Homo sapiens: one gene and its partners. The protein of the gene in region 7 interacts with the protein of the main gene of each other region in a pairwise test. Each region holds a gene or a part of one and is shown on either strand. Other genes may lie near its edges. The genes, in order: MFF, TMCO5A, MAGEA6, ADORA2A, SLC7A14, TMEM237 and BET1.

Region 1 (3,500 bases), on a different chromosome or scaffold from region 7:
CCACATTATTGCAATGAACTGTGTATATGCTGGTGAGGGGGAATTGGGACAAATAATTTTTTTTCTTTTTTTACTTTTTGGGACATATAATTTTAATGTACTGTGACTCTGCCATCTAGCTATTATTACTTTTTATACAAGATTTGGAAATATCTCTCTCATTCAGATATTTTAAATGTAATAGCATTTGATATGATATACTCGCACCTAATAATCTGGTCTCCACTAAGGACTTATTGTAATTAAAAAGTTAAACAAGTTAGCTGATGGACAATAAATCTGTTTTAAGGAGGGAAGAGAAAACAGGCCCTTGTAAATATTAGCTCTTAAGTGCCAGCTACTTTATATGCAATATCGTTTGAAAGATCTCCTACCATACTAAATAAAGAATTGGAGGCCATTATCCCTATATTATAATTAAAGGTGGGGGAGGGGAGAAGATCCTCACAAGAATTCACAAAGCTAGATATTATTACCCTTCCTCTCTATTTCTCAACAGATGAGAAAAGTGAGGCCAAAAGAAGCTAAGCAATTTGTTCAAGGCCATCATGCAGCTATGTAGTGGGGTGGATCCGGGTTAATTCTAACTGACTCCCTGAATCCATGCTTTTTGTTCTGAACCTTGCTGCTTCTTACAGCTTCCCAATAGTCCAAGAATGGCTTTGAAGCTTCAAAAAGCATAAAAGGGAGTCTAAACCCTTGGGGAAAAACAAACAAAACAGATCTATACATATACATGTATATATAATTCCCCTCCCCACACCCTCATGCCATGAGCTTTCTTTTTAAGCTCTTCTTAGTGCAGCTTTCAGTCCTTGGGCCCAAATGCATAGCACTAGGTCAACTCTGGGAAGGCTCAGAAAGGCCCTGGATTCAACAATGATAAGTAGCATGGACAGGTGCTTACGAAGTATGGTGACATACCCAGGGCCTGTGTGAGGACTACAAGCACTCAACAAGAAAAAGTTTGTCCAGTGCAAGTCAGAAGTCATATTCGTTCCTAAGGTAAGAAACAGGATTTATTAGAAGGGATAGCTTAATTTATTGTGAAATTCTTCAAAATGCAAAAAGTAACAATTAAATAATCATGAAAATTCAAACCCTGACTACCAGAAGCCACTAGATAAATGTTCAGAGTTGAAATGAAATTGACTCTATCTTTCCCACACTATGCCAAAAAAGCTCCCTGAATTTCCTTTAAAACATTATGTAGTAATAAAGCAAGGACAAAAAGTACTTGAGATAACTGCAAAAAAATTATTTGTATGAATAAGTCTAAGTATACTACTGATGATTTTACCTGGAGATGTTCAAAAGTGAGATAAATTATCAACACTGAAAAATATCAGTATTATCAAAAAGATGATAGCACCTGGAATTTTCAAAACAAGCCTAGAAATCCGTAGCTGAGAGGAAAGGAAAAAAGTGTCCTGGCAGCTGCGCTGACATCACCTCCTCAGATTTGCTTTATTAATCCAATCATATCAGCAGCATAAATGATTAAATCAAAAGACTAACGAGGACTAGTAAACTTCAGTCTAACACTCAATCCAATGGGACGGGGCCCCTTGGCATATCCCTAAGTGGAATCAAGTACTTAGAGTAGGCTAGAAAAGCCTTTGAAAAAAATCACTACACTTTCTATGTATACTCTCCCTGACAGAAGGAAAGCTAATGTAATCTTGTGAAATGTGAATTTTGGACAATAATTTCAAATTAAAAGAAAGTAAAGCAAGCTGTTTCAAATCATTGCATCTTAGAAAGAGGCTAGAAGGTAAAAACAGAAAAGAAAGACACCACAGTCCACTAAACAAGAGGCCAAAAAATATGCAATAAAGCTGTCAAGAGTCACGGATGGCCAATCACCTGCGATTTTCATCCAGCACATCCAAGATCTGCTGGTATGCCCTACGAGTAGAAGACTGGATAAGCGACAAAATGCCACGAGCAGAGGAAAGATTAGCTCCATCTTCAGGTAACATATGGGGAGGACAGACCCGAGCCTGTTGTGGCGATGGTGTCACACTGTTTACACAAGCACAGCAAATGAAGAGAAAAACACTCAAGTCAGATTTTTATAAAACTTCAGCTGAGCAGTCTTTATCTTAATTTTCTTAGTGTTCTTGCCCCTTTCCCACCCTTCACTCTCCCCACAAGAAAACAGTCAAAGAATAAATATTTTGAATTGTTTCCAAAAACTAGCTACAAGGCAGCACTTATAACTTTGTAACCCTAAACATCAAAATAAATAAACTGAATATGAAAGAACTGTAGAGAGGGAAGAGAACTACAGCAATGAATGTGTTCAACCCCTCCCATGGAGAAGCAGCATTCTTTACTTCGTGTTTATATTCCAATTCAATAAACCAACTTCTAAGAAACAACACTGCTGTCGACTTATGGATGATTAGAAGAGTAGGACAGGGAATTCTCACATACAGATGTCAAAGTTTAAACACATGAATCAAAAGTGTGATTCCATAAAAACACCATTTCAAACACTTCGTAAAGCCAATGAAGTTGAAGTTTATGACGAATAAATGACACTGATTTAAGGATGAATTAGTCTTAGAAAATGGTAACAAAGCATTTTGATTGTTTAATTATAGTAAGCATATGTTCTCTAGTTAAATGACTAAAGCATAAAAATATTCCCAAATCTGTGAATACAGCAAAAGAAGGCAAGGACACTTCTTAAATTATCAATGGCTGATAACCATTTCTGGGCTTCTTAGTGACAATAATCTTAATCGTTCTTTCATGTGTGGGCTGAGATTCACAATTTCATTTGACTCCCCTGCCAGTGCTTTCTGAAAGCTGAATGAACCAATTCTTATGGTTCTAACCTAAACTCTTAAGATCTGTGTCAGTATTTTCAGGGAGCTGTTTAACATTACAGTATGATTATCTATTGTGAGGTATTTAACTGACATACAGACTACGACAGTGGAATGAGGGCTCAACATTCTCAACGTCAAGGCAAAACTAACATCAGGCTAAATGTCATCCAATGTGTATTACATCTGAAAGAATAAAAACAAAGCAGATGGTAAACAATTGAAAAAAGAAAATCTCTTATTTTGACTGTGTAATCTTTTCTAACAGCATGTATTTGTTTGGAAACTACAAAATAAGTGGGATAATTTTTGACAGGATAGTTATAGTCATCTGATATTATTCCCAGAGTCCCAGAAAATTAAAAAACAAAATCTCCTCCACAGCTTTATGAATAACTTTGAATGGCTTGGTGATCCAAAGACAGAAGTACCATAATATGAAAACCATGTTTTTCAAAGATTACTTAAAAGATCTAAGCCAAATCTTAACGTATAAAGCAACTATCTATCAAGCCTGATTCACTATAGGATTTAGGTCAAATTTGGTGTCAAGATAAACTCAAATTTTCAGATGCAGTCTCATGACCAGTGACCTTAAATGTCCGTCCAGAGACTGGCAATCTCTGGGAATACATATAAGCCAACATTATCTACTGATCCATG
Region 2 (4,232 bases), on a different chromosome or scaffold from region 7:
GGCTGTTGTGGGGGCACTGGAGAACACAAGTACCCTACCTCACCTTTTGTTGAAGTTCTGTTATACTGTGGACCAACGTCTTATTCTTCCTTTCCTGTGAGAGAGAAATAACAGTGTAAATCTGCCTCTGTACTCCATCTGTTCTTATTCAGTTGATTGCTGTCCATTTCACCCCAGCTATATTTTCCTGCAGTAACTTGACCTTATTTGCATAATGTCATGTGTATATTGAAATCAAACCACAGGTGAAATACAGGGATATAGATGCCCATCTGCAGGGCTTCCCAATGATTAAACATTGCCCAAGAAGCCAGACACATCCCCTTCCACGCATGGACAAATTTTATCATGACTTTTGAGATGGCTACTGTTCATGTATAAAAAGGAGAGACAAGCTTATCTGATAATTGATGAAGGATGGAATGAGGAATGCAACCTATTAAATGGCTCTTCCCAACTTCTTGCTTACAAGTCTGGCTGTTTCTTCCTCCAGCTCCTGCAAGGCTCTTTCCCTTTCCATCGTGGTGCGGTTCTCCTTCTCCCACTCTTCATCTTCCACCAGGCCCCGCGTCTGAATGATCTCACTTTCCAGCCTGGACAACACAAGCACATGCCATGAGGACCCATGCTTGGCAGTTTCAGAACTGATAAAACACAGATTTCAGATATAAGGGAACTTCAGGGACAGTGTACATGAATCTCAAGCTGAAAACTCTTCCTTACTGAATCCATAAAGCAGGAAGACCTGCCTGATTCCTAAGCCAAACACCCCAGTGTTCTCTCAACTCCATCTTTTAGGAATCTATTTGAAACTTGCTATGCTTCAGTGTTCAAGAGAAATGTCAAAGAATGAAAAATTAACTTTTTGCCACACAAGGTAGAAGTCTCTAGAACAAGCAGGAAAATTCAGTTTTGGTTTTGGTCCTCCACCCCTTCTTTGGATTGGGAACTTCCCTCATGAAACCTTAATACTCACCTCTGAATCTTATCTTCCCTCTCTTGGATTTTGAGAAGAAGTTTCTGATTTGCTTCATCTATTCTCTGCGTATCCCTTTCAAGGTCCATGTTCAAACTGATAATGTTTCTTTTTGACTGAGCCAATCTTGAGATTTCCATTTTCTCCGACCTATAGACTCAGCCCCCAAAATGAACAAGGGCCAGTTATCTCAAGATCAATAATCATCAGGCCAAAAAGGGTATTTAGAACACATCTAGTTTATTAACCTTACTCTCTCTGGGGGCATACCATTTTCATTCTTGAAAAATTACATTTCTTGATCATGCTCTACAACTGTTTCGATAATTCGCAGCTCAGTCAGCAAGGGTCTTTCCCAGGCTTTCTCCTCCAAAGTGCTCAATCTAACAGTGCACCTTCACTCTGGTTTCTTGAGAAGCTTTGCTTCCTTAAATAACCCCTTGCGCTGGGGAGAAATGTTTCTCTTGGCAATCTTTTCTTAGATAAACTATTCACAAAACCTGCTCATACAATACACATTTATTGAACACTTTTATCTAAGCACCTGGCATATCACTTCTGGTTGGGCCTGGCTTTCTGCAGAGCCACAAGGGGTTTCCACCAGCATGATAGGGCTTCAATCTTTCCCTTCCTTCTCCCACCTCAACACCTCTCCCTCACTTGCCTGCTACAAAGTTTGAAATTTTTACCATGAGAGTAATTCCATTGAGCACACCCACATAGGCTCTAGGCATAGCTTTCAAAAATGCAAATATCTTTTTTGAAGTAAATTTAAATGAAATAATGGTAACTCTAGAGTATTTTGGGAAGGGTACATGGGAGGCTCTTGATATATTTTTCTTTTTCTACTAATGTAAATTAATTCATTGGTTTGTGTTTCAGTTGATTAACCACTATTAGCACAGTGAGGCACAGAGGCTTTTGTTTTAGATAGGAATGAAGGATAATATTGGAAAGTTAAGTCCTATCTTGGAAGGGCTTGCTTGGATGGGGGATTTACAGTAATCACTTCAGGAAGGTATGGCATGCTTGGGGTAGGGTGCGGAGGTGGTTGCATAACAGGAGTAGAAGGGGAGAAGGAGGCTGGAAGATGAGGCAAGGGGTCAATAGCGAACCTGCTTTACACCTTGGTCTCTGGATATGGCTTTGCATAATCATGACTACTTAATCCAGCTGATCTTTCTTGTGTCCTTCCATTGTAGATTCCCTAAAATGCCAACAGAGATGTATCTAATGAATTGGAGAAATGGGTTCATTTATGAATACAGTAACTAGGGAAGAGTCCCAAAAAGTAGAAATCAAATTAAGTTAACTCATTTTCTCCCTCTAATCCCCACATTTTAACCATGACAAAACTCAGCCTTTTGATTCTTCTGCCCGTGTTCTGATTATACCCTATTAAAGATACAGTCAGGATACAGAGATAATGCTGGAATATACGTCCTATTAATAGATATAGTCAGAGATGGTTTATCAACATAAAACCCTGTGGAAGTTTATACAAGACAATATAAAGAAATAGAGATAATCAATAAGTCTCTTTTTGCTCTAGGCCAGTTGCTTTCCATAAAGCCCCATGGGCATGGATGTAGGTTTACAATATCCCTGAAAAGTAATCTTTGCTCTCTATCTTTGCTTATGCCAGAATTTCCAGATATTAAGATCTTTAGTATTAAAGAGGGCTCAGAAAACCAAGTATATGTAAATCATTTGTCTCTCCCTTCCCCTTAGTTTCTTTTTTTCCCCTTTATTTCTTCTACAAACTCTACCTCCCCTTTTTGATGTGTCTTGTCTTCCTGATCCTTCCCTAGTCAATTAGCTTCTGAGGAGTCTAATCTTTCTCCACTGGAACTATCCAATAGAATCTCAGAACATTCTGAGAGGTCATGACATAGGATGGGCGGGGCAACATGTCATAGTGGGGTGGGTGGCAATGGTTTCTCATCATTTGTGTAGAGTCCAGAGCCTAGATAAGTGTGTGGATTTCATGGCCAAGTCTTCCCTGGATAGCAGTAGGTTCAATGGATTTGATTTCTGGGCTGTTTGAAGGGGCAACCTCTATCTTTTATTTCTCTGGCAGATAAAGCTCTCTTCCTGCCTCAGTGTGACTAAAATGGAAAGTCTAGGTCTTTTGGCCAGCAGTCTAATTTCATCATGTAGCCAACTAACTACTCATTCATTCAACAAACAGTGAAACACTGAATGAACACGATGTGTATCTTCTAGGCTCTGTTCTAAGCACTGGAGGGAAAGAATGAACAAAGCAGCCAAAAGCCCTTGACCTCATGAAGTTTATATTCTAAGATGTGTGTGTGTGTGTGTGTGTGTGTGTGTGTGTGCGCGCGCGCGCGTGTGTGTAGGGGGGACTGGTAACACAATCAATAAAATAAATAAAATTATTTTTACTTGATATGATAAAAGAGGAGACTGCTGAAATTTTACCCCAAAGAGTTAAAGAAACCAGTGACTAACAAATTCTTGAGCTTGCAGAATAGCAGATAAGAAAATAAACAACTTGCTGAAATGCTGAAACTCCCTCTATTTGAGAGATTTCAAAACAAAAAACCTAGCTGAAATTGGTTGGAACCAATAAGGCCAACTGGAGTCTGTGCAGAACAAGCTTACTGATGTCACAGCTTGAATTTCCACTGCATGTTTTATACTAATTTCCCCTGAATTTGCACATGGGACCCATAAGGAGGCATGAAGAGATAATCGTGCATGCCTGAGGACTTTCCAGACCTCCCCTTTTCTTCTACCAGTCATTTGCTAATTCCAGAATCCACTCCCTAAACCTTTTCTAATAAAAGTACTGCCTGAGAGCCAGCACAGAGAGACAGATTTGAGTTGGATTCCTGTGTCCTTGTTAGTAGACCTACAGTAAAAAGCCTTTTTTTTCTCACAAACCTTGTGTCATAGTATTGGCTTCCAGCACATTGGGCAGTGACACTCTTTTGCTTGGTAACACTGCCATGAGGAAACATAAACAGGTGAAGGAGGTAAGAGTGAGGAGGTTGTTGCAAGTATAATTAGGGTGGCGCAGAAGAAGCGACTGAGCATTCTCAGACCCGTTAAGTGGGGTGTAGATGTGGTAAGAAGCTTGGTGGACAAGAGAAGCCCTCCAGTTGTGCTGAGATGGACACAGAGTCCAGCAGATCTAGGAGCATGAAGGGAAGGCATGAAAACCCAAAGCTTTTCCTGTGATGCTTCCTGGGTACCTAGCTCTTCCTTGTACCTGCCACCATCTTAGGAAAGA
Region 3 (3,972 bases), on a different chromosome or scaffold from region 7:
TTTTCCTGCACGAAATATTGGGTGAGCAGCTTCTTGGGATCCCCGAAGATACTGTCTTCCCTCCCCTCAAACACCTCTAACACACTCAGCTCCTCCCAGATTTTCTCCTCAGGGGCACAGTCGCCCTCTTTTGCGATTATGGCCAGGATGATTATCAGGAAGCCTGTCTTGGGCATGATCTGATTGTCACCCAGCAGGCCATCGTAGGAGAGGCCCAGGCAGGTGGCAAAGATGTACACGTGGCCGATGGGGTCCACTTCCATCAGCTCGATGCCAAAGACCAGCTGCAAGGAATCGGAAGCTTTGCTGAAGATCACAGGAAAGAAGTACTGCCAATTTCCGACGACACTCCCCAGCATTTCTGCCTTTGTGACCGGCTCCCTGGCTCGATACTTGAGGAGCAGAAAATGAACCAACTTGGCCACCTTCCTACTGAGTGCTGCTTGGAACTCAGACTCCAGGTCAGGGAAGGTGCTTGGCCCCTCCTCTTCTTGGTTGCTGGAGTCCTCATAGGATTGGCTCCAGAGAGGGTAGTTCATGGTAGTGGGGAGGCTGGAGGCTCCCTGAGGACTCTGGGGAGGATCTGGTGACTCGGCAGCAGGCACCTCCCCCAGGGTGACTTCAACTAGAGTAGAAGAGGAGGAGGCAGCCTCCTGCTCCTCAGTAGCAGGAGCCTGCGCACCCACCAGGCCCAGGGCCTCTCCTCGGGCCTCAAGGCCTTCTTCAGGCTTGCAGTGCTGACTCCTCTGCTCAAGAGGCATGATGACTCTGGTCAGGGCAACAGGCGGGAGTGTGGGCAGGAGCTGGGCAATGGAGACCCACTGGCCTGGGGAGAGAGGGAGCATGTGAGAGACCTCAGCTGAGTACTGAATGGAACCTTGGAGGCTCTAACAAAGGCTTACTTACAGATCTTCTCCTTCAGTGCTCCTCCGGGGGCCTCTGTTCCTCCACGTCAGCCTGTCCCCTCAGAACCTGAAGGAGGAAGTGAGAGGGCACCTCAGGGTACATCCGGCCAGCACATGCTGAGGCTGCAGGACTGAAAGTATTGAGGGTGAGGCCAGGCGCTCTGGAGTCCATGTGTTCTGGGGCAGGTGGGGCCCTTGGTTTGAATCCAAGGCAAACCTTCACCGTTGGCACTATCTGAGCCCCCTCTACTCTGTGACCTGAGGACACTGCCTCAGACCAAGTCCTCACTGCCTTGTTCCTGGAGCTCCTGATTCCTGGGAGAGGAATCCACGGGCCCCCAATGTGCAGACAGCAAACGCAGCCACGGATTCCCAGAACTGTCAGGAGGGTTGGCCAGACTCTGTGAGGTCCCCACTCTACTGGGGTGGAGGATCCCCTCTGTGCTCACTCAGGGCCCTCACCTTTCTCCTTATAGGACCTAATCCCTCCCTTCTGCTGGCCTGAGAATCTCTCATGTCAAGAACTCACATACCTGATATGGTACAGAAAAACATGAGGGGACCCACATCTGGCCATACATTCCCAGGTCCTCCCGGAAAGGACAACGAGAGATGTCCAAATTTATTGAAGTCCATGTACCCTGGGTGAGGAGACTGCTTGGTCCTCACCTCCACTCCTAGTAGGGTCTGAGAGCCTCCCTCTACTGCCCTGAGTGCAGTCCCCTCAGACCAAGGCTTCCCCTTCCCTGACATCAGTGATCCTAGGATAATGGAGGGACCTCAGCTGACAGCCCTGCCCAGGCTCTCTGAGGTAACAGCAGGAGCAGGGCAGATTTTTATGGGGCCCCCAGTCCGCATTCTGTCCCAGGGGTACCCTCAATCCTCCCTCAGTCTCTTCACCTGGATGCTTGGCAGATCCTAGGACCACTGCATCTGTCCACCACATAGGGGCCCCTTGGGGGTACACCTTGGGCCCTGCAGATCCTGGGATTCCTCCCTCTGCTGACCTGAAGTCCCACTCTTCAGACCACAGCCCTCAACTCTCTGGTCACCCTGAAGGCGCAATGAGCACAGAGCACATTTGGCCACTGTGCCCAGCATCCCCCAGCCCAAGGTTGCCACTGATCTGGACTCCAAGGTCCCCTCAGTCCTCCCTCTTCTTCCTCCCCATGACTCCTCGCAGGGCTGGGCCCCAACCCCCTGCTGAAGTGGGTCTGCATCCCTAGGATTCCCGTAGCCGAATGAAAAGGTGCCTCGGTTTGAGACAGGGGTACAGTGGGCCCCCTGTCCTGGCATGCTGGGTCCCCTCAGGACTCCACTGTCTTCCAGGAGGGCCTGGGCCCTTTCGCTGCCTCCCAACGGCCATACTCGCGATACCGAACCCCTTCCCTCCCTTAGCCGTAGATGTGAACCTCAGGACTCACGTGCCTGGCCGCCATTCCCGGAGCTTCCGTGACTTGATACCAGGGGCAAAGCCCGGATTCTGCCAGGATAGGGGTGGGGGTGGGGATGGGAATGGGGAATGGGGGATGGGGGTGGGGTTGGTGTTGGGGGACGGGAATGGTGGTGAGGGTGGTGGTTAGGCTGCCCTCAGTTCCCTCTCGGGGTCCTGACCTTGATTCCTGCCACAGCGTGGGCCCTGACCTCTTCTAACCAGCCCTGCCCTGGCCACATTAAGCTCTGTCCCCAGAGTTCCCCGTGGCTAAAGCGGCGGGGGTCGGCGGGGTGAGGTAGTGGCGACCCAGCCTGGAAGTCTTCCCCTGCGGGGTGGCCCAGGCCCGGCAGCAGAGGCAGCACTGGATTATTTGAGGCCCTCTGTCTGAGGTGAGGCCCGCCTCAGTCCTCCCTCAGCGTCTTACCTTGCCTCCTCACCGAGCCTGGGCCGGCTTCCCTCCGCCGACGTCAGGCCGTCGCTCGTTGCTCAGGGCGAGAATCTCGCGGTCTTCTGACCTCCAATGCGCAAGTCAGTGGCGTCACATCCTGGCAACGGTACTACCCTGGGTTCCGGGCAGGGGTGGAACTGGATTCTGCCTGGATGGGGATCGGATGGGGGTGGAGGTAAGCATGAAGATGGTGATGGGGCAAGGGGTAAGGATTGGGACGGGGGTCCTGAGGCTGTAGATCCTGGTGGGGTCGGGGGAGTTGGGGGTGGGTGGGCGGGGCCTTCGGTCATCCCTCAGGGTCCTGAAGTTGATGCCTGGCTGAGCCTGGACCGCCATCCTCTGCAGATTGCTTCTGCTCCCCTCAGACCAAGTCTCTGACTCTGAGTCCCCCTGAAGTGGCATTGGGGGAAGGGGTGTGGTCTGGGTGACATCACTGCCTGCGTTTACCAGGGCTGACAAGAGGGGCTGAGCTGGATTCTGTGGTCCCTCTATGGTGTGTGGGGTGGGGGGGCGGTGTGGACCCTCAGTCCTCACTCAGGAGGGTCGTTTTCGTCACCTCTGGCTGTTGGATGAAGTGATGGGCAGGAGATGCTCTGTTTCTGTCACCTGTGAGCATTTGCACAGCTGCACCCCTTGTAGAGAATGCCTGCGGGTCCCAGGCCAGGTGCTCCCTGCAGGGCGGGGCGGCAGCTCCCGCGGTTGTAGTGACCTCCTATTTCAGTCTTTGTGTTCTGTTGAAAGAATTTTTTTTTTTAAAAAATGTAATTCCTCTCCCACTATGGTGGTTTCAGGTTGTTATTAGCAGAACTCTGGAGTCATACTGCCTTAACCAACCAAATTTTCCTGGTGTCCTGCTATTACCTAGGGCTCTTGGCATCGTGTTTTCAGAGGCTGCCTCAGATTGTGCAAAGAAGTGAAGTGGAAAATTTCAAACTTTTATTCTACCCATTCTGTCATCTACCGTGTAGGCCGGCTACAAACCTCCCCAACATCCCTGCTGCTAACCCCCTCCAACCAACACTGCAAGTGTCAAACACAAGTACCAGCTCAACACAGCCTTGAGTCTCACCCTGGGCTTTCCCTGTTTTGTTGCTGATACTGGTTTTTTATTTACTGTTTCCATTCTGTAATTTTCCAGGTTTGATTTGGGAAGCAGAGCACAGCAGCCCAAATTTGTTGTAATG
Region 4 (3,500 bases), on a different chromosome or scaffold from region 7:
GACACACCCGCTGGCAGCACGTGGGTCACTGGGACCACAGCTCCCTGCTAAGCCCAATGCCAGACCCTGGCCACACTCATCTGCCAAAAAGCAGAGCACAGTTGGCCTCAGGCAGCCTAGGGGAACCCAGGCCGCCTGGGAGGGCCAGGCTGCCCTGCGCCCATAGGGGTCAGTCAGTTCGGCATGACTGCTGGCCACGTGCTGGCCCTGGGGAGCCCCTGCTGAGCCTGGGGCCCCGTCGCCAGCTCACCATGCTGACACTGCAGACCAGGCCCTGATCCCAGGCTCACCCTGGCTCCGGGCACAGACCAAAGCCTGGGCACCAACAGCCTTTGCACAGATGTAACCCCGGCCCTGCTCACCGGAGCGGGATGCGGATGGCAATGTAGCGGTCAATGGCGATGGCCAGGAGACTGAAGATGGAGCTCTGCGTGAGGACCAGGACGAAGCAGGCAATGAAGAGGCAGCCGTGGCAGGCAGCGCAGAACCCGGTGCTGATGGTGATGGCAAAGGGGATGGCGAGCACACCCACTGCGATGTCGGCCGCCGCCAGTGACACCACAAAGTAGTTGGTGACGTTCTGCAGGTTGCTGTTGAGCCACACGGCCCAGCACACCAGCACATTGCCCAGGATGGCCAGCACAGCAATGGCCAGCTCCACCGTGATGTACACCGAGGAGCCCATGATGGGCATGGCCACAGACGACAGGCAGGCTCAGCACGGACGCGGGCTGGGCCAGCTCACGGTCCATTGCTGCAGCCCAGCCGCCCGCCTGGCTCCCAGCCCGGCCCAGGCGGAGGGGCCCAGACCCCTGAGCCCCTTCCTCACAGGAGCCAAGTGCAGCCCTGCTGGGGCGCTCTCCAAGGGCTTTTTCACAGAGGACTCTGAGTCTCCTGAAACCAGGCCCTCTGCAGGGGTTCTGGCAGCAGCATCATGGCTCAGCCCAGCTTCAGGGTTCCTGAGGCACCTGCAAAGGGACAGCCGATGAGAAGCTGAACCATCTGCAGAGGGCGAGCCCTGCGGAAAGTGCCACCCCTTACCCCACACTTGGCCCCCTGAAGACCCTATAGTTTCAGATCCCACCCTACCCACAGGCCAGGTGTCAGCCTGAGGATGGCCCCTGACCCCGCCTAGCCCCATGCCCTGCCTGGTCTGCTGTGGTCATAGCCAGGAGGCGAGAGAGGTGGGAATTTGACCCTCACTTTAGAGGAGGACACCCAGAGAAGTCACTGAGCAAGGCTGGTTCCCCTGGTCCAATAGAATTCCCGCTGAGACTCCCACACAAACCCCTCCCAAGGAGGCAGCCCCTTCTCCCAGGCTCTGCAGAATGAGTACTGCCCTAGCTGGGCCCCTGCCAGGACTCCAGCTCACCCCAGCACTATCCATGGCTCCCTGCATTCCCTGCTCTGCGCATTGTTGTCACGGTGCCTCCCACTCTGGACTCAGGGCCAAGGATCAGATGTGGTCTGTTTTTTTCCTGGGGGAGCCAGAAACTTGTTAAAGTCTGTCAGTGTTGGCCCCCCCATGCTCAGCCTCTCAGGCCTCCTGTGGCAGCTTGGCCAGTCTCCTGGGTCCTGGATCTCGGCCAGCCCCATGACACTCCCTCCCAGAAAGGCCCCTCCCTGCCCAGGCTCTCCCAGTCCCACCCACCTTCTCTCGCCAGGCCAACTTCTCAGCCCCCCTGGCCTGCTCCATCCCGTCAACTCTCCCAGGAACTACCAGCACCCACCTAAGGGACACCAGCCGCCCTGTGAAAGGACAAGCCAGAGACCCCTGGAGCTCGGATGTGGAAGGATGTGGGGAGCTGCCTGGTCCTGTCTCCCACTGCCGCAGAGGGTAAGCCCTCTCATACTGCGCCCGAACCCGCTGCCTCCAGGTGCCCCTGCCAGTCAGCTGCAGTCAGGGCAGGGGCGGCGCTGCAGCTGACTGTGAGCTTCCACTCGGAGGGAGCTGCCTCACCTCCCTCCTCCCACGCCCTCTCCCCCACCTGCTCCTCTGCCTGGCTGACACCAGGAATGACTAACGGGAGTTTGGTCCCTGGCAGAAAGCAGGTACGGAACCAGGACTCACTGAGGGACTCTGGGCAAAAATGCTTTTCTTTTCTGGGCCTCAGTTTCCTCATTGATACGGTGAGGCAGCTGGACCCCAAATGACCTCTAGGGGCCATGCCAGCTCTCACCCATGATTCTATGAGAAGGAAATAAACAGATTTAAAATGGCTCCCCCAGAGTCAAAATGGAATTACTGACACCCCTCAGAAGCAGAAGTTTTGGTTCCCCAGCAGGCCTGAGCCCAGCCCCAACTCCCAGTGTCCCCTTCGAGCCTGTGAATGGTCTGGATCCAAATGGACCTCTGCCCGTTAAATTGCCCCTCTTTGAGAGCTAAGAGGCCCCCAAATCTACCCCCTCCAATCCTGAACCCTCATGGGGCCCTATGAGTGTGTTGCCAGCCGCCACCACCTGCCTGGGGACAAGAGGTCAGAGGCTGCCTTTCACGTGGACTCGGGCAGCCACCTCGTCTCTCTCTCTCTTCCAGGACATGAGGGATGGAGCAGGACTGGCAACCTGGAGAGGAAGTCACTCCTGGTCCTGAGCCCTGTTCAAAGGGCCAGGCTCCCCTCTACCCCATTGTCCATGTGACAGAGCTCAAACACACAGACCCCAACTTTCCCTCCAACTCCAATGCTGTCGGCACCTCAAGTGGCTGGAACAGGATTGGCACGGGCTGCAGCCATACCTGGGACTGGAGGTTCTCCTGCACCCAGCAGGCCCTTTTGCCCCTACTAGGAGCCTGGGAATGGAGCATTGACACAGAAGCAGGAGGAGGAAGGAGAGAGCAGAGCCAGAAACCCTGCAGCAACGGAGGGCCTGCAGCAGCTGGAGAGGGCCGAGTCCTCCCAAGCCCCTGCTTTCCATGGAGCACTTGCCAGGCAGCCATTCACAAAGTGTGTCGTTGGCAGGGATGCACCAGACCAGCTCTCCTGGCACCATCCCTGGCCACACTCAAGGAACACAGTTATCCCTGATGCTCTTGGCCTCTCTCCCTGAGCAGTACTCACCAGGGCCCACCTGACTCACGATAGCCCCTGCCCAACAGGTACAAGTGGAGCTGGTGCTGGCCCCGGGCTGCCTCCCACCCAGGTGCCTGGCCTGTGGCTCCAAGGTGGACTCCCAGGCCCAGCACCACCAGCAGCAGCAACAGGCGACTGTCCAGTGAGGCCCAGTGGGCCACTGAGGAGCCGCCTCTACCCAGGGATCCTGCCTCCCACCACGGCCCTCTCTAGGGCATCTGCATTGAAGGATGCCACAGCCTTCTGCCAATCTGACCATCCCAGGCTAGAAGGCTGATGCAGCCCCAGACCACGCTCCAGATTCAAGGGCCTTGCTGGGGGCAAACAAGGTGGAACATAACACGTCTGCCAAAGTGAAGGAGGACTCCCCAGTCCCATCACCCAGAGCCCTGCTGGTGGGGTCAAATCATCGGCGCCTGCCTCACGGGC
Region 5 (3,500 bases), on a different chromosome or scaffold from region 7:
ACAAAAATTAGCCGGGTGTAGTGGTGCATGCCTGTAATCCCAGCTACTCGGGAGGCTGAGGCAGGAGAATCACTTGAACCCAGGAGGTGGAGGTTGCAGTGAGCTGAGATCACGCCACTGCACTCCAGCCTGGGGGACAGAGTAAGCAGAGTGAGACACCATCTCACCAAAAAAAAAAAAAAAAAAGAAATCAAAGATTTAAAGTGAATTCTTTTTTAATTATATACCAAATCCTGGGGTAGGAATAGCAGCTGGATTTAAAGTAGTGAATGCAGAAGTAAATTGGTGGAGCAGGACCAGGAGGAGTTAATCACACCAGCCTATTGATAGTTCTAGCTCCCTATGTTGGCTGCACTGGAATCGGTCACTGTAGCTCACCATTAACCCTCTGCTTGCCCGGCCCCTCCAGGTTCCTGGCTCACGTCAGCTCCTACACAGAGACACCAGTGGTGGCCTGCATCGTGTCGGGGTTCCTGGCAGCGCTCCTCGCACTGTTGGTCAGCTTGAGAGACCTGATAGAGATGATGTCTATCGGCACGCTCCTGGCCTACACCTTGGTCTCTGTCTGTGTCTTGCTCCTTCGATACCAACCTGAGAGTGACATTGATGGTTTTGTCAAGTTCTTGTCTGAGGAGCACACCAAGAAGAAGGAGGGCATTCTGGCTGACTGTGAGAAGGAAGCTTGTTCTCCTGTGAGTGAGGGGGATGAGTTTTCTGGCCCAGCCACCAACACATGTGGGGCCAAGAACTTACCATCCTTGGGAGACAATGAGATGCTCATAGGGAAATCAGACAAGTCAACCTACAACGTCAACCACCCCAATTACGGCACCGTGGACATGACCACAGGCATAGAAGCTGATGAATCCGAAAATATTTATCTCATCAAGTTAAAGAAGCTGATTGGGCCTCATTATTACACCATGAGAATCCGGCTGGGCCTTCCAGGCAAAATGGACCGGCCCACAGCAGCGACGGGGCACACGGTGACCATCTGCGTGCTCCTGCTCTTCATCCTCATGTTCATCTTCTGCTCCTTCATCATCTTTGGTTCTGACTACATCTCAGAGCAGAGCTGGTGGGCCATCCTTCTGGTTGTTCTGATGGTGCTGCTGATCAGCACCCTGGTGTTTGTGATCCTGCAGCAGCCAGAGAACCCCAAGAAGCTGCCCTACATGGCCCCTTGCCTCCCCTTTGTGCCTGCCTTTGCCATGCTGGTGAACATCTATCTCATGCTAAAGCTCTCCACCATCACATGGATCCGGTTTGCGGTCTGGTGCTTTGTGGGTAAGCAACTTCCTTTGGAGCCTTAAGAGTTCCCTTTTAAGGTCTTAAGCATGCTTATCCCAAAATTACCTCCTAGCTGGACTAGGCAACTCCGTTCCCAGAGAAATCTGGCTGGTTCTATGGACCCTTGTGTTCCGCCTAAGAGTCAATAAAGCCAGTTGTCCCCTTTCTGCCTGTAATGTTCTTAGTCATTGGTTCTGGAAAAATGATGTTGATTAATCCATCGCTTTACTGAATTACTGAAAGTTCTTTCTATATCAGGATAATTAATACCAGAAAAAGTCCACTTAAAGTGAATCCACATTTTTAAGGTGACAAAAATAGCATAGTATAATTGGGGTCAGGGCATTTGGATGGAATTTTATCATAGAAACTAAGAATTGTAAAATGAAAAACTATCTTAGATTTCACAAAATTAAATTAAAATAGCAATTATGCTCTCATTTTTAAATGAACAAGGTGTGAATTAAGTGTGGATTTTTTGGCATAATTTTTCTGACAAAATTGAATCATGGCATCATTTAACATCTCTCACTTCATACTGACTTTTGTAAAATATTCAAAAGTTTTTCATATTTCCCAAGGTCCTTTCTTCATTCATTGACATTCCAATCATTCACTTGGGAAGTACCCATCATGCCACCATCCTTACTGATTTTCTCTCTCCTGCTGGTAATAACTAATATGACTCTGTTAGGTCCTCAATTGTCTACAATTTTGGGTGTGAATTCAAATTGTTCTCTAAACTCACTTTCACGGACTTCAAGAAGTCCTGTACCTTCTCTAAGATTTCTAATTTTACTTTGTGATCCATTTCTATTGTATTTGCAGTACTTGCTTATCATCTAGGACAATCTCTGATGTTCATGAGGTGGCTGGGGATTGATGCTAGTAAGAACTTGAGAAGTGTAATGGAAGACTCATTTTAAAGTTCCTTAGTCACTATTTGTATGTCCTCTGAACAACTTGGTAACCCTGGGGTCTCTGATAACAAATTCTTAGCTAAAGAGGATCTTTAGAAGCTCTGGGGAATAGAAGAGTAAACCCTGCCTAAAGGAGAGGCAAGACAAACACACGAGTCACTTAGCCCAAGAGAGGCCAAAGAGACTCTTTTTGTTGTTGTTGTTGTTGTTGTTATTTGTTTGTTTTGTTTTGTTTGTTGTTGTTGAGATGGAGTCTTGCTGTGTCGCCCAGGCTGGAGTGCAGTGGCTTGATCATGGCCCACTGCAACCTCCGCCAACCAGGTTCAAGCAATTCTCCTGCCTCAGCCTCCTGAGTAGCTGATATTACAGGTGAGTGCCACCATGCCCTGCTAATTTTTGTGTTTTTAGTAGAGATAGGGTTTCACCATGTTGGCCAGGCTGTTCTCGAACTCTCAACCTCATGATCTGCCCACCTCAGCCTCCCAAAGTGCTGGGATTACAGGCATGAGCCACTGTGCCCAGCCCACAGAGACTCTTAGTGATGAGTGGCAGTGCATCCACTCCTAGAGATCAGGAATACACTTGTTCAACATGTGTCCTCCGTGTCTGGAGCAGGGTGCCCGCAGTATGTGCTCAAAAATACTTCTTAAATTATTATAAAGTACTCTTCAAAGGGGAAAAAGGAAAACTTCCAGTCAGAATTGCCAGAAAAAACTTGGAGGGGGTAGAATACAAAGTGGCCCTATAAGTTAAGATATAGATAGAAAGAAGTGGGGGAAAAAGTAGCAACCAATGGAAAGGGCATATGTCTTCCCCAGAGGCCTGACTCCTTGCTTCTGAAGGCTGCTCTATGGCTTCCTGTAAGCATTTTGTCCCAATTTTTCACTATTCTAAGTCCCCCTGGTTAGACTTCAGGAGGATTTCTTGAGAGGACCCCACTGACTCATCAAGATTTTAACCAATTTTTATAACACATTTACAATCTCTTGGCTGGGCATAGTGGCTCACGTCTATAATCCCAGCACTTTGGGAGGCCGAGGAGGGCAGATCACCTGAGTTTAGGAGTTCGAGACTAGCCTGGCCTACATGGCAAAACCCCATCTCTATAAAAAATGCAAAAATTAGCCAGGCGTGGTGGCAAGTGCCTGTAATCCCAGCTACTTGGGAGGATGAGACAGGAAAATTGCTTGAACCCAGGAAATGGAGGTTGCAGTGAGCTGAGATCACACCACTGCACTCTAGCCTGGGAGACAGAGCAAGACTCCATTTCAAAAAATTTTTTTAAAAAAA
Region 6 (3,500 bases), on a different chromosome or scaffold from region 7:
AAGAGAAAAGAACTTCAAGAATTTTAATTGGGCAAAAATGTTTTCACTATCTTACAAATTTTTAATTTTTTAAAAATGTTATACTTCTAAACTCTCAATGTAAAAATTGAAATTGTAATGCCAAACAATATGGAAAAAAATTAAGTAACCCAATACCCAGGCTGTGCTGAAGATTCCCAAGATTATCTCCTGGTTCGCTGACTTTCTAGAAGGGCTCACAGGACTTGGAAATCATCACACTCACAATTATGGTTTACTACAGCAAATGGATATAAAGCAAAATCAGCAAAAGGAAAAAGTACATGGACCAAGTCCAGAGGAAACCAAGTACAAGCTTCCAAGAGTCCTCTATCAGTGGAGTCAAATAGGATGTACTAACATTACTGGAGAGTAATGAGTTGTGACAACACATGTGACACATGTTGTACAAAAGAAGCTCATCAGAGACAGTGCCCAAGGTTAGGGGCTAGTCACATAAGCCTAGCACATACCAAAATTCTGGATGCCCGGAAGGGAAACAGATGTTCAGCAAAAATCACTATGTGTGCACAAATGCACCGTGAGTCACCTTATAATTTAGGGAAAGTTTTCTATCAGTGTAGGGAGCTGTTTATCATCCAAGTTCCCAGATGCCAGCTAACGGCCAATCTTATCAGCAGGCTTTTCCAAGGATAGCAGTCTCAGGTCTGCTATATTAACTCTTTTCTGCACACAGGGTAGGTATTAAGTTTAAATGAGTCAGTGAAGCCTTCTTCTAATCCACTAGCTACTCTTCCTACCTGGAAATACTAGCTCCCTGGAATACCTTCAAGACCTTACAATTCTATTGTAATAAAATACTTACAGCCTCGACTGGAAATATAATGCAAGCAGTAGAGCCTACCATTGGTCATCCTGAACAAAATAAATAAAAACACAATTTTTAAATCCAGAAACTTAGAAAGGTGAACCTGCCAGGCTTGGTGTACTTTGGAATGGCAATGACAGGTCCTTTTTGATTCAAAACTTAGTTGGGTCCTGAATTTTCTAAAAAAGTCATTTCTGTAAACACACTTTTCACAAATTATAAAACTAGGTATTGGTATCCATCTTGATTTTTAAACTTGTATCTTAACTAAATTACTAAAAGGGCACTTTTAATGAAACTACATTTACTGCCACTAATGAAATAAACTGTAGAGTAGTTAAAGCTAGTCTGAGCACCATTTCTGTCTCTTTTCCTTCTTCTGCCATCATCCGCCCCTTCGTTCTCATAGACCCTCAGTGCCCCCAGGCACTGTGGCATCCCACTTCAACTTGCCTTCCAAAATTATGCTCCATTCTCCTGACTTTTCTAGTTCCTGCCCTTCTACTCCTATAATTCTTCCATCCAATCAAGACACGCCGTTTTCTAGAAGGACAAGTAATTAGGAAAATTATAATAAATTATTAATAAGGGCTGATGTTAATAGGAGAGCACTAATCTCCCCATCTTTGTTCCTTCCCTGAGTTTTGCTCCAATACAACTCTTTGTCATTTTTCTAATTATTATAAAAGTCATAATGCTCAAAATATAAAAAATTAGTAAAATAAATGAAGGAAGAAAATTTTAAAAATCATACTTCCTCCTTCTAAAACTTCTACCACTGTAACACTGCTATATTCTTCCATTCTTTTTACTATGTAGATGTATGTACATATTTACGTTCTGGGTTGAACTGTGCTCCAAAAAGAGATATGTTCAAGTCCTAACTCATAATACCTGTGAGTGTAACCTTATTTGGAAACAAGAGTCTTTGCAGATGAAATCAAGTTAAGATGAGGTCATGCTAGATTGGAATGGGCCCTAAATCCAACAACTGATATCCTTATAAGAGGGAAATGTGGACACAGACACACAAGGAAAAATGTGAAGATGGAAGCAGAGATTGGCATTATGCCACCACAAGTCAAACAATGCCAAGGACTGTCAACAACCATAAGAAGCTAGAAGAAATGGCCAGGCGCGGTGGCTCACACCTGTAATCCCAGCACTTTGGGAGGCCGAGGTGGGCGGATCACCTGAGGTCAGGAGTTCAAGACAAGCCTGGCCAACATGGCAAAACCCTGTCTCTACTAAAAAATACAAAATTAGCCGAGCATCATGGCAAATGCCTGTAATCCCAGCTACTCAGGAGGCCGAGGCAGGAGAATCGCTTGTACCCGGGAGGCAGAAGTTCCAGTGAGCTGAGATCGCACCATTGCACTCCAGCCTGGGCTATAAGAGTGAAACTCCATCTTAAAAAAAAAAAAAAAGAGGCTCGAAGAAACAAGGAAGGATTCTTTTCTAGAGACTTCAGAGGGAGCATAGTCCTGCAGACAACTTGATTTTGGACTTCTCACCTAAGAACTATGAAAAAATAAACTGTTGTTTGAAGTCACACAGTTTGTGGTAATTTGTTATGGCAACCCTAAGAAATTAACATAGTATATTTTACAAAAATGGGATCCTCCAATACATACTATTTTATAACCTTTGTTCTTTGATTTAATAATACACAACTGATGATTATCTGTGTCACCCTAACAATCCTTTTAATGGGTACCTGGTTCCTATTTATGGATGAAGTATGATTTATTTAGCCAGTATCACACCGTTAAATATCTGGGTCATTACCAATTTCTACTCTTATAAATAACGCTGCAGTTAACATCCTTTAATTACTGCAGCTATTGAATTTACTACTATTCCCAGAAATCCAGACAGGCTGTATCTATGCTCCTATGAGCAAAGCATGAGTGCACCCATTTCCCATCAATATTGGATTTTATAATTTGAAAAAAGCATTGCCAATTTGATAGGCCAAAAAATGGTATAGTATTTTATTTACCTTGTGAACTGCCTGGGACATAGAAAGACTAAACAAATGTTAGCTGTTGTTTCACTATATTATTGTTAGTACAGAATCTACCATTTCCCCACTAATCTGAAATGTCCATTTCATCATTTACTAGATTTTTCTATGCACTGAGATCTGAACTTTCTGTTTAGTCCTGTATTTGTTGCCCTCCTCTCATAATCTATACATATATGATCAAAAGAGACCTGTAAAGTATTCTTGGCTTAAGCCATTGGAGTTATTCTAGTGGTAAATATTTTAAACATAAAAGCAAGAAACCACCTGTGGGATATGGATAGGGGGAAAGAAATGAAAGCAGAGAGGTTTTTATCATGTCATCAAAATCACAAGTGCTATCACAACTTAACCTTGGTTTCTTCACATACCAAGAGGTAGCCTTGTCTTTTTCTGTCTTCTTTGAACAGGAGCCTCTGGGTGCTCTTTGAGTTCTTTAGTTGATGGCTCATTGCCCTCAGAGGGCCTTCGACCAGCAGTCTGAGCAAGGCCTTCCAAAGAAGCACTTGCTATAGAAAAACAGAGTAGAAAAAAATGAGATTACTTGAGCAAAGATCACTGAATCTTAAAAAGATGGAGGAAAAGGTAACTAGAATGTTTCCTATAGAATAACCCCATCTCTTTCAG
Region 7 (3,500 bases):
ACCAGAATGCAGGTTTTCTATTGTACTTACTTTATATTCTATATAGCACTTAGCATAATTCCTTATCAATGGTGTTGAGTAAATTTGTATTGAACCAAAGAATTACACGAAGATGATTTTAATAATATATGTGATTGATACTGCATTATAATGAACATGACGTTCACTTATAAAGCATTCAGTAGAAGCCCATGTTGATAAAACTTAATTGGTATTTCAATATAGTCTTTGGAAAATCGAATTACATTCAGTCTGGAGACCTTTAGATTTTGAAACAGGATTGTTTTCAAAGTCATATTAAACTAAAGTTGATTTATGAACTAAGTAATATTGTATAATGTTAATTTTAAAAATACAACACTTGGAAGGACTTAAGAATTAAATGCCTTTAAAAACCCCCCCAATGTAGATAATTTAGATTACTTGTTAGAAGAAAGTTGTGATGTCCTGGAAATATTTTTCCTTGGCATGAATGACAGTGATAGAAGTTGAGTAATGTGGGCAGTCTAGCTTTATAGTTACTTTATTATCTCTGAGTTGTTAAATCTGGGAGGAAAGCTCATGTTCTGATCTATAGAATTCTAGTATGGTTTTGTATCAGTATTATCCCATGTGCTTTCACACAGATGAAGAACAATATTTGCAGTGATTTACCAAGATTTTCAGTAGATGATTCTATTTATTTAAATATCTTGGAAGTGAAGCCTTTGATGAATCTGTCCTATAAAGTATTAGATAGATTTTGGTTTGAATAGTTGTCATAATTAGCTATAGTATTGTATTTTGTAAGCTATGGCTCTTTTCTTCAGAGCTTCAGGAAGTAAGTAACACTAATATTTATTTTTTTCAATTTATTATCATATTTTAAAGCAAAAACCTTTAAACTAAGGAAAAATCAGTTTAGACATATTTAAAGTAATGTAACATTTCATTAGGAAAATATTAAATACTTCTGTCTAGATTTGAATTGGTTGTATGGGTACTTCTAGATCTTTCAAAATGTAATAAGGTTGGGTACTAGGCTTAATTCTTGGTTGACGAAATAATCCGTACAACAAATCCATGTGACATGAGTTTAACTGTATAACAAACCTTCACCTGTACCCCCAAACCTAAAATAAGTTAAAATATATATATATAATTTATAAAATATAATAAATAAAATGTAAGAAGGAAATATACAGATATTTGTAGGAATTTGTAGCTTTTGTAGGAATATAATAAAGATATAAAAGCATACAAGGTTAAGAGAATCAGAGAGAAGTAGTACATACCAAATTAAAAGATGGAATTGAATATTAAGATGAAATTAAAATAAAGAGGAAAGAAGAAATGTCCATAATTGGGAGGAGTAGAAATTCCAAATTTATTTTTTATTGATCTTGGTAGAAAAAGTATCAGAAAAAGAGAGTTTATGTGTCTAGAAGACCGTTTCATTTCAGAAAATGTGTATGCTTAGAATGACATTATTTTTACTTTATAACACTTGAATACTTTTATGTGAGTAATCCTGTGTATACCTTCTTCTTTATAGCTTTCCATTGAAATAGGCCATGAAGTTAAAACCCAGAATAAATTATTAGCTGAAATGGTAAGTGGTTATGATTTTAACTTTAAGAAATTTGATCTAATATTCGCAAATAATAGAATTTCAACTTTTATTCATTTTGAAATACAGAGATCGTAAGTCCTTGATTCCCGTCCATTTGTATCTAATGTGTTTGGAATAACTATAAGGTTTATTTTGCCATGCTTTTGCATTTTTCATCTCGTCTTACGCATGTAAGTGGGAGGAACAAGTGGAAGCCAATATATCTTTAATCCTGTTTTTAGAATGATTGTTAAAAACAAGACAAATGACTATTTTGAGTAGTCTTAGAAGTCTCAATAGTAGAGACTACTAGTAATTTATTAACCAAGCAATCAAAAGGCACTTGATATCCAACCAACTAAATGTCGTTCACTTAATGGATACTTACTCTTTTGCTTGATTTCCTAAGGATCACTTATGAAAAAAGTGCTCATACATTTGAACAGCCCAGAGCCTTTTCTCTCTAACAACATATACCTTTTCTTGTTAGAGTCCCCTTCCATTTGTTAACGTTTATCTTGAATGTCAAGCTTCTCTGAACCTTCTCTGGTTCCATGTGCTTTTAAAATTGTGCTATTCAAAAATGAATTTGGCATCAAAAGCAATGTTCTTGCTAAGCTTGTGCGCTATAATAAGCTAGGGACCTCTTTAAAAATGTATATGCCTGATTCTGTCTTTAAATATACTGATTTAGAATTTCGTGAGGAGGGATCTAGATGTAAATATTTTGAAAAAAGCATCTCTGGTGATTCTGATGCATAACCATGAAAAAGCATCTCCGGTGATTCTGATGCATAACCATGGTGAAGATCCATAGATCTAAAGTATATGAGCCACATAGACACTGAGCTATACAAAGGATATTTATTATTATGCCAGGGCTTTTACATCTCAGGATATTATAATTTCTATGAAAGTATGTGTAATATTTCTAGTCCCTACCTAAGCCTCTCTCATCTTTAGGATTTTCCAGCTATGTTTTAATACGTTAGTTTTTCCCCATCCATATTTATAGTCCTTATCACATTTTACTACCTCTATATGATATTCTCTTAACTTAATAGACTCTACTTCAAAGTCAGCTGTCTAAACAAAAGGATATTAAAAGTAAAGGTCCAAGGCCTAGCATGGTAGCTCACGCCTATACTCCCAACATTTTGGGAGGATGAGGTGGGCGGATTACCTGAGGTCAGTAGTTCAAGACCACCCTGGCCAACATGGTGAAACCCCATCTCTACTAAAAATACAAAAAAATTAGCTGGGCGTGGTGGCGTGCGCCTGTAGTCCCAGCTACTTGGGAGGCTGAGGCAGGAGAATCACTTGAACCTGGGAGGCAGAGATTGCAGTGAGCTGAGATTGCACCACTGCACTCCAGCCTGGGCAACGAGCGAGACTCCGTCTCTAAATAAATAAATAAGTAAATAAAAGTACATTTAACTGCTAACCGTATTACATTTTGGATGAAATCCTCTACTTGGGTAGCAGTCAACCATTTGACCTTGGAGAGCAATGGCACAACAAAAAGTGGGGAAAAAAATCTGTGTGATAATGCACAAAGTACTTACATTTATTGTTAATTTTTTTTATCCACATAATTGGAATAACACCTAAATAGTTTTGAGTTGTTGAATTACTCTGTGGAGCTGAAAGAAGTGTTTATTGGACAATGAAAGAGCTTTTTATTCGCTGAGAGTATTACTGTATTTTGCATGGAGAAATCAGGCTGATTATCCAAGGTTATCAACAGGCTCCTGAATTGATTAAACACAAAACTGTCATTACAAATGTACTATGGTAACAGTTATTCAATTACTTGGATATGCATATGTAGACTCTTAGAATCTAACTGTGATATTTTATTTGCCTTTATCTCTGATAGGATTCACAATTTGATTCCACAACTGGATTT

What was found.
Region 1: the proteins of BET1 (region 7) and MFF interact in binary tests that used the Homo sapiens proteins (3 or more experiments, as listed by UniProt).
Region 2: the proteins of BET1 (region 7) and TMCO5A interact in binary tests that used the Homo sapiens proteins (3 or more experiments, as listed by UniProt).
Region 3: the proteins of BET1 (region 7) and MAGEA6 interact in binary tests that used the Homo sapiens proteins (3 or more experiments, as listed by UniProt).
Region 4: the proteins of BET1 (region 7) and ADORA2A interact in binary tests that used the Homo sapiens proteins (3 or more experiments, as listed by UniProt).
Region 5: the proteins of BET1 (region 7) and SLC7A14 interact in binary tests that used the Homo sapiens proteins (3 or more experiments, as listed by UniProt).
Region 6: the proteins of BET1 (region 7) and TMEM237 interact in binary tests that used the Homo sapiens proteins (3 or more experiments, as listed by UniProt).

The regions. Positions count from the first base shown.
Region 1 is NC_000002.12:227,345,751-227,349,250, reverse strand, and holds part of MFF (mitochondrial fission factor), read right to left. Parts: intron 2,026-3,500; coding exon 1,867-2,025; intron 1-1,866. UniProt on the Homo sapiens protein: Plays a role in mitochondrial and peroxisomal fission. Promotes the recruitment and association of the fission mediator dynamin-related protein 1 (DNM1L) to the mitochondrial surface.
Region 2 is NC_000015.10:37,933,208-37,937,439, reverse strand, and holds the start of TMCO5A (transmembrane and coiled-coil domain-containing protein 5A), read right to left. Parts: upstream 2,801-4,232; 5' UTR 2,746-2,800; intron 2,184-2,745; 5' UTR 2,135-2,183; coding exon of another isoform or gene 2,103-2,134; 5' UTR 2,092-2,102; intron 1,127-2,091; coding exon of another isoform or gene 1,117-1,126; coding exon 977-1,116; intron 594-976; coding exon 470-593; intron 95-469; coding exon 44-94; intron 1-43.
Region 3 is NC_000023.11:152,766,890-152,770,861, forward strand, and holds the start of MAGEA6 (melanoma-associated antigen 6), read right to left. Parts: upstream 2,801-3,972; 5' UTR 2,765-2,800; intron 1,037-2,764; exon of another isoform or gene 973-1,036; 5' UTR 907-972; intron 827-906; 5' UTR 762-826; coding exon 1-761. UniProt on the Homo sapiens protein: Activator of ubiquitin ligase activity of RING-type zinc finger-containing E3 ubiquitin-protein ligases that acts as a repressor of autophagy. May enhance ubiquitin ligase activity of TRIM28 and stimulate p53/TP53 ubiquitination by TRIM28.
Region 4 is NC_000022.11:24,430,599-24,434,098, reverse strand, and holds part of ADORA2A (adenosine receptor A2a), read right to left. Parts: intron 3,203-3,500; exon of another isoform or gene 2,537-3,202; intron 1,852-2,536; exon of another isoform or gene 1,665-1,851; intron 1,479-1,664; exon of another isoform or gene 1,373-1,478; intron 969-1,372; 5' UTR 695-968; coding exon 363-694; intron 1-362. UniProt on the Homo sapiens protein: Receptor for adenosine. The activity of this receptor is mediated by G proteins which activate adenylyl cyclase.
Region 5 is NC_000003.12:170,478,076-170,481,575, reverse strand, and holds part of SLC7A14 (solute carrier family 7 member 14), read left to right. Parts: intron 1-409; coding exon 410-1,287; intron 1,288-3,500. UniProt on the Homo sapiens protein: Imports 4-aminobutanoate (GABA) into lysosomes. May act as a GABA sensor that regulates mTORC2-dependent INS signaling and gluconeogenesis. The transport mechanism and substrate selectivity remain to be elucidated.
Region 6 is NC_000002.12:201,633,504-201,637,003, forward strand, and holds part of TMEM237 (transmembrane protein 237), read right to left. Parts: intron 3,383-3,500; coding exon 3,245-3,382; intron 1-3,244. UniProt on the Homo sapiens protein: Component of the transition zone in primary cilia. Required for ciliogenesis.
Region 7 is NC_000007.14:93,994,356-93,997,855, reverse strand, and holds part of BET1 (BET1 homolog), read left to right. Parts: intron 1-1,534; coding exon 1,535-1,591; intron 1,592-3,470; coding exon 3,471-3,500. UniProt on the Homo sapiens protein: Required for vesicular transport from the ER to the Golgi complex. Functions as a SNARE involved in the docking process of ER-derived vesicles with the cis-Golgi membrane.